Homo sapiens: one gene and its partner. The protein of the gene in region 1 purifies or fractionates together with the protein of each later gene. This does not show direct contact. Each region holds a gene or a part of one and is shown on either strand. Other genes may lie near its edges. The genes, in order: L3MBTL4 and AHCY.

Region 1 (3,818 bases):
GTACCACATGTCTAGAGGATGTATTTCTCAGACCATTTTATTATTCTCTTTATTGAGTGTGCTGGATACATATGTTAGAGTTGAAACAAGGCCATGCTTATTTTAGTTGTGCTTTGTACTTTAGCTTACACTGTCTTGGAATGTGAATCCAGGCCAGAGGGCAGAAGATAGGGTTGCTGAAGGGAATATTTGACAGGTATTGAATTAATAAATAAACCAGTTAATTAATGAATACATAAACTGACCCTCAGATTCCTAGATTGGGTAAAAGGGTCACTATTTTGCAGAATGCACTAGATACCTGTAAGACAGGGTCTAATTTCATTAGAGCTTAATCAGAGGTCATCCATAAATTTCTTCTTTAATGGAAACATTTGGATAGAAGGGTTGGCTCTTATATGTTGATAGTACTGACAAAATATATGAATATTTTGTGAATTTTGTGTCTACTCCAAATATATGACACTTAACGAATGATTGTAAACTTTCTATCTTGCAGGTTTGTGGTTACCGTCTAAGACTTCATTTTGATGGTTATTTAAGTTGCTATGATTTTTGGACCAATGCTGGTTCCCCTGACATTCATCCAGTAGGATGGTGTGAAAAGACCAAACATGAACTGCACATCCCTAAGGGTAAGCCAGGATACATTTACCAACTGGAAAGAGAATCAATTGGTATTTCACTTATATTTTAACAATACTTTATGAAATTCGAAGAAGAGATCCTGGTGTGGATTGATTTCCAAAATGAAATTGTGTTCCATAAAGAGTAGTAAGACTATAATGGTACCATTTTTAGAAGTAAATGTCTTTAAAGAAAAGCATAAATGACTATTTAGGTCAAATATTCTGATAATGTACAGAAGGCAGAAATAAAATATTATGAAAGCATTTTATTTTATTTTATATAAAGTTTATTAAACCTTATAAGCAGTGCAGACTAATATTTAAATCATGGTTGAAACAAAATATCTAATCAATGATACAGCAAGGTGAGGAAACTTGATTCACTGTAAGTAATTTGTTTCAGACTTAGGAATCACGGAAAACAAAGAACTATGAAAAAAATCACTATTTTCTTTCGATGGGAATGAAAAATATCATGGTTTTGTTATGTGCTAGAGGAGTCTGGGCCAGGCAGATGTGACCAAAACCTTTTCGATTTGCTGTGTGCAAGTGAGGTGGGGATGTGGTCAAGGATGATGCTGACGGGCTCATATCTTTGCACAGCAAACTTCTGTACATTGTCTCTGGCTTGGATGTCAGACTGTTCGATGTCTGTGGCAACTTCTGGAGTCAGTATACAGTCCTTTATTCCTAGTTATCCACTCAGGGTGTCCCTTGGGATCCTCCCCTGAGGCTGATGGCAGAGTCCTTGAGGTTGCTGGTTTGGAGGAAGCTGGTGACAGGCTACAGGCTCATTCATTCAGTAGGTATTTATGGAGCCCTTACCACGTGAGGCACTGAGGGCCAGTAGCAAGTAAAGCAATGTCTCTATCTCCACGGGGCTTCATTTCAGAGGAGAAGGATAATGGCGGTGGCTGCAGGGACACTCTTTCAGAAAGCATGGGGGAGAAAGGCCTCTCTGTGGACATAATGTTCCAAAGAGACGTGGGTGAAATGACAGAGGAAGCAGTGTGGTGTCTGGGTAAGCCCTCCAAGGGAAGAACAGGAGCAGGCGCCGGGGCAGGAGTGCGCTTTGCGAGGATGAGTCATCTCAGGGAGACAGCAGAGAAGCGCCCAGGTGGGAAGGTCGGGGACGAAGAGGGTGGTGTTCCCAGGCCTGGAAGGCTGTGCAGGGAGTTTGACTTCTGTTCCAAGGCTGGTGCTCAGAACCATATTTTGAGCCTGTACTGTTTGGCCAGCACTGTGTGAGAGCCACGCCAGGGCATGCGAATGGGAGGATGCAGCAGTTTTTAATGGGAGACTAGTAAAGATGCGGCGCAGAAAGCTGGAGCTGTGGAGTGGGCATTGGATTGAGAAGGCGTTTCTGTGCCTGGCATCCTGGATGGCTGCACCCTCAGGACCTCTGATGGTCTCTGTAAAGTCTCTTCCTCAGGAGTGGGGACAGGTACGGGAACTCTGGTCTCATCCCTTTGCCCATTCAGGAAAGCCTTAATGGGCGATGAGACTCCCATCAGGCCACCAGAGTACTGACTCCGTATCAGAGCATGTGAAATTGTATCGGGAATGATGCGCGTGATGGGGAAGCACTATCAACAGTTTTGCACATAATACATTTTAAAAAGGTGAAACAATTTGGAGATTTTAATTTAAATCTTTTGTGGGTGCTAAGGACGTTGAATTTATGGCAGGACACTAATAATAACCATATGAGGTTGGTGCAAAAGTAATTGCGTTTTTTTTCCATTAAAAGTAATGGCCAAAACCGCACTTACTTTTGCACCAACCTAATATATTTAATATGCATGTGATTACATCTTTTGGGTATTTTGAGTAATCTGTGCTTTTTTTAGGTTATAGAAAAGATAAATTTGTTTGGATGGATTACTTGAAGGCCTGCAAATTGCAAAATGCTCCAAAGAAATTATTCAGAAACAGAAGTCCTGTAAGTATTTTCTTTCCCAGCATAAATCAAATTTCCCCCAAGCTTAAATTTCTTAAAATTCACTATATATTCTGTTTTATTTTAATCCTTTAAGAAGTTATGGAAACTGTTAACTTCCTGTCACTTTTCTCACCTAATTCGTCAGTTTCTTGTGGGCATATCTTGGTTTTCTTCCTTTAAAAGTATAATTAAATACTTCAATTAGATGAGAAAAAGTTGGGAAAACTTAAAAACTTTATGTTTAAAGCCTACTAAAATTGAAAGTGTCTTTTAAAAATGTTTTCCCTTACAGGGAGTTAATCCTTTAATCTTGCTTTTGGTGTTTTGAAACCAGCAGATACTCTAAGTAGGCTTTGAATGTACCCAGCCTAGATATATTTAAGTGTAATGAAAATGAGAGTAACATTTTGTACTAATTGAAGGGGTGTTCTGCGGATCTGGGTAGATCACACTTCTTATGCCATCCGTGTCCCCAGAAATCTAGTGAACCTTCAGTGGAGGAGAATAAATTGCAACTCCAGAAGTCGGCTCTGCCACTGGCAGGCGGTGTCACTGTGCAGGCCACTCACTGAATTTCTCCAGACATCACTTCTGTGATCTTGAAAGCAGTGTTATACAATCGTTAAATATGTTTCCTAGATTTGTATCAAGAAAAGGAGCTATTAAAACGTGAAGTTGCTGTAAAAATAGAATGTGCTGAAGGAGAATAAAAATCAGGGTTTGATGAAAGAGAAGTAGAGAAAAACACCCTCTTTCAGTTCCCGGATACTGTATGTACTCCCTAAATCCCAGGATTGGCTAATTATAGATATATGAAGGGTGGGTTTGTAATTGTTATGTTATTGTAAATCATAGTTCATAGTATTTTTATACTAAGAAAAGCACAGATAGTAAAAAAGCACTCACATTTTAAAATTATAAATTTAAATTATATGTTAAATATATATAAATTATATATAAATACACATTTTAAATTATAATTTTATTTAAGCATGTATTTCTTAAATATTGAAAAAGCCACTTATTTTCAGATTGAGTAATCAAATTAACAGGATACTTTGGTGCTAATTAGAGCATATCTTCACCACTTTTTCAAATAGTGGCATTTGGAAACTTCAAAAGCCTATGGGAAGCAGAGAAGGTTATTTGATACTATTGTGTTCAGTAAACATCATATTTTAAAATTAATACAAATTATTCTAAGAAAAAAGAGGGAAATATGAAGATGATAAGGGAAAGAAAACCTC
Region 2 (3,818 bases), on another chromosome or scaffold:
TGCGGGAGGCGTGTTTCATCTCTGAAATTGTTAAAATGCACTGTAGGAAGCTGACTGACAGACAATTTTATTGATTATTAAATTCTTAGATTATTAAATTCTCTACAGAGTCCTTTGCCTCCCACCGCCTACCTCTTTGGGTGTTTGGCAGGATCTCAGCTTCCCTAAAGATAAAAATCACCAGGAGTCTTAGACCTGCTGAATCATATTTTCCAGGGGAGATTTACAAGCATGCCAGAGGAACATCCCTTACCGGGGAAGTCTGCAAACTTTGACCTAGGGACTGACCTAGGGTATGACCTTGGAAGTGGACCAGTGTGGTAGGGGAGAGTATTGAGATAGTGAGTTAGCTCATAATAATATCCTTCTTTCCTGCCTGAGAATTTGAACAAATTCGAGACATTTTAGGTGGCAGATAGCACCTGAAATACTTTTTGTTACTAGTAACCATGAAGCCAGAGGATGTAGATTAGTATTTTAGGTGGCAACACCTGAAATATTACCTTTTATTACTAATAACCTCAAAGCCAGAGGATATAGATTAATATGAAATCCAAATGATCCTGCTTATTGAACCCCCAGATTCAGCAGTTACCCAATCAGTTGCAGGCAAGGTGGGCCAGGGTAGGTTGGTCTCTGGAAAAGCAGAGAACACCAGCTTCCTGCAAGTGGGCAGGTGAGTGCTTGCTTGCAAAAAGAAGGGAGAGCTAAGCTGAGCACACCATTTTTTCCTCTCAGTTTTACTGGTCAGACAAGCTCACCCCACCTCCCCTGGGGCAGAGAGGCCAAGAGCATTCGTTATACGGATGAGTTCCTCCAGGTGGAAAGAAACATCAGGAGTGGGGAAGCATTTTTACATCTAAAAGGAGATCAAGGAACTGTCAAATCCAAAATGTTAGATAGTATTTATAAGTGTTGAATCACCGAGAGTGATGACTGAGAGAGGAAGATGGAGAACCAGCAGCTAACATCTTTAGGGAGTCTTTAGGGAGTGAGGAGTGGCCTGGAGGTTGGTAGGTGTCAGCAGAAAGGCAGGGTAGTGGGAAGTATCATGTGAGCTATTTTTCAAAGGGACGCTTCTTTATGTTGTAATTTTTGTGTCCCTGTGTGATTAAATGTGTTCTCCCACAAGTCAGAAAGGTGCAGGTAGGCAGGGACCGTGTCTTTCTTGAGTACTCTGGCTTCATAAATACTTGTTGCATGAGTGAGAGAATGCGGTGACAGAGTGCTAAGCCCTAGTGTGTTGAGTCCACACGTGGATCGGGGTCCATGCAGTGACCGCCCCTCTTGGTTGGTGGGATGAGGGGACTCACGGAACTCCCACCTGTTTCCTCCCGTAGCCGACATCGGCCTGGCTGCCTGGGGACGCAAGGCCCTGGACATTGCTGAGAACGAGATGCCGGGCCTGATGCGTATGCGGGAGCGGTACTCGGCCTCCAAGCCACTGAAGGGCGCCCGCATCGCTGGCTGCCTGCACATGACCGTGGAGACGGCCGTCCTCATTGAGACCCTCGTCACCCTGGGTGCTGAGGTGAGGCCCACAGCTGTATCACCCCAGAGTCCTTGCCCTCCCTGGGTTCAGCCAGGGAAGAAGACGACTGTGCCAGGGTGGGGACCTTCCAGGTGTGGAGCTGACCGCGGGCCTGGAGGGGTTCCTCCCTCTCACTCGGTTTCCTCCGTTTCCCAGTGCTGCCACCCCTTGTGGTGAGTGTTCTGCAGATTTTCTCCCTGGCTGGGAAGGTCACTGTTGGCTACCCTCAAGGCATCCTCCTGATGGATGCTCTGGCAGGAAAAATTCAACACCCATGTCCTACTTAGTCTCTTAAGGGCCAGCTTGCCTTGGCCCTTCGGGGGTCACAGGCCTACCCTGGACCCATCATGGCTGCTGGATGATGGCAGCTCTGATTGGTTCAGCCTGGGTCATGTGTGCCAATGATTAACAGCTCTCCTAAGGTCTCAGAGAGTCAAGAAGCAAGCTGGTTTCCCAAAGCAGGGTAGGGCAATGGAGCCAAAATCCACAGAGGGGCTCAGGGCTGAGTCCTTGGACCTCTTCTTTCTTTTCAGCATTCACTCTTGGCGGTCTGATTTTATAGCTTTAGACACTATCTGGTGATGACTGTCACATTTTTGTACTAGCCTGGACTTCTCCTGGAACTCAAGACTGGCATATCCAGGAGCGGGGGCGTTGACGCTCCCTGGAGGTCTAGTACTCATCTCAGGCAGAACGCGTTCAAACAGACTCAGGATTTTCTGCCCCCTCTTCTTCCCAAAGCCTTCCCCACCTGAGTAAATGGAACCTCTGTTCCAGCCTTCTGGGTTCTCTCAATTCACGAATCTGGGAGTCATCTCCTCCCCTCCCTTTCCTCCCCACTCCCAACTCCCTTTACTCCAACAACTCATCCCTCTGCAAATCCTGTCAGTGCAGCCTTCAGAGTAGACCCAGGATGTGACAACTTCTCATCATCTCCACTGCTACTGTCATATTTCTTGTCTGGAGTCTTCTCCAACAGTCTCTGCAGTTGTCCCCTTGCTTCCACCCTTTCCCTTCCACACAGCACTGGAGTGAGGTTTTAAAACCTGAGTTGGATCTCGCCCCTGCTCTGGCTCCCATCTGCCCACCCAGCATCCCCAGCCTGTGATCCTAGAGCTTGCTGTGCCTAGATCCCAAGCCTCTCCCCACTACCCGAAGCTCTCCCTTTTCCTCGCCCAGCGTCCCTGGTGCTTTTGAGCCATCAGTGACCAACAGCCTTGTTTTGATGGCTCTTCTAGGTGCAGTGGTCCAGCTGCAACATCTTCTCCACCCAGGACCATGCGGCGGCTGCCATTGCCAAGGCTGGCATTCCGGGTAAGTCCTGCTTGCTTCTGAGACGTGGAATTTGTGAAGGGATTCTGCCCTCTTTGCTTCACTGACTGCTAGAGCAACAGACTTCCTTACATATCAGAAAGGGAGAGGAGTCACCGCCACAAAATCCTAGCCCAGCGACCCCACAGGAAAGAGCTGCTTTGTCCCATCATCATCTAAAATCCTGTGGAAGTTGTTTATTGACCCAGGTCAAGCCGTGTAACCAGGAAGAGCAAGATCTTATGATTGGGAACTACATGATGAAGCGGAGGGGAAGTTCATTAAAGGAAGGATGTGGATCTCTTTCCAAAGAACTGGGGAGGGCTACGGGGCAGAAAAAGAGGTTCACTGCCTAGGGTATGGCGGTCTAAAGGACTGAGGAAGGACCAAGTCTAACGAGAATGGAGTTTTCACAGGCTGGGCACATGTCTGCTTGGACTTGGGGAGGGGAGTGGTTAGATCTGACCCAGTGATTAGGACATTCAAGATTGCTTCTAACCAACCACAGGTGGACAGGAGGGGGTGGCACAGCACTCCTTCACAGACTGACCAGGGCTGAATGGGCATGATCCCCATTCCTCAGCCTTGGCACCGTGGCTTTCTTCTTTTTTTTTTTTCTTTTTGAGACAGAGTCTTGCCCCGTTGCCCATACTGGAGTGCAGTGGTGCGATCTTGGCTCACTGCAATTCTTAAGACTATTGTCTGCTCCAGTTGTGGGTAGAAGCAGCTGGCTCTGCTTGGCCAGCGTCCTTTGCTCACAAGAGGCTCCTGGGAACCCCACACCTGTGCCCTAGTCATGCCACATGGGAGGAGTGTGGGCTGGTGGTCAGTAGCCCTCAGTTCTGGTGTCTATTCTGGAATTTCATTTAGAGTGGCCCAAGTGCGTCTTAGCTCCTCTCTGGGCATCTGTAAGTGATGATAATGGTCATGGCTGCCTCACAGGGTTTCTATGAGGAAGAATGAGATGGGGTATGGA

Evidence for each region.
Region 2: the proteins of L3MBTL4 (region 1) and AHCY purify together in Homo sapiens (affinity purification with mass spectrometry; one large-scale study listed by BioGRID and IntAct). This does not show direct contact.

The regions. Positions count from the first base shown.
Region 1 is NC_000018.10:6,240,111-6,243,928, reverse strand, and holds part of L3MBTL4 (lethal(3)malignant brain tumor-like protein 4), read left to right. Parts: intron 1-499; coding exon 500-635; intron 636-2,479; coding exon 2,480-2,571; intron 2,572-3,818. UniProt on the Homo sapiens protein: Putative Polycomb group (PcG) protein. PcG proteins maintain the transcriptionally repressive state of genes, probably via a modification of chromatin, rendering it heritably changed in its expressibility.
Region 2 is NC_000020.11:34,293,108-34,296,925, reverse strand, and holds part of AHCY (adenosylhomocysteinase), read left to right. Parts: intron 1-1,340; coding exon 1,341-1,531; intron 1,532-2,769; coding exon 2,770-2,845; intron 2,846-3,818. UniProt on the Homo sapiens protein: Catalyzes the hydrolysis of S-adenosyl-L-homocysteine to form adenosine and homocysteine. Binds copper ions.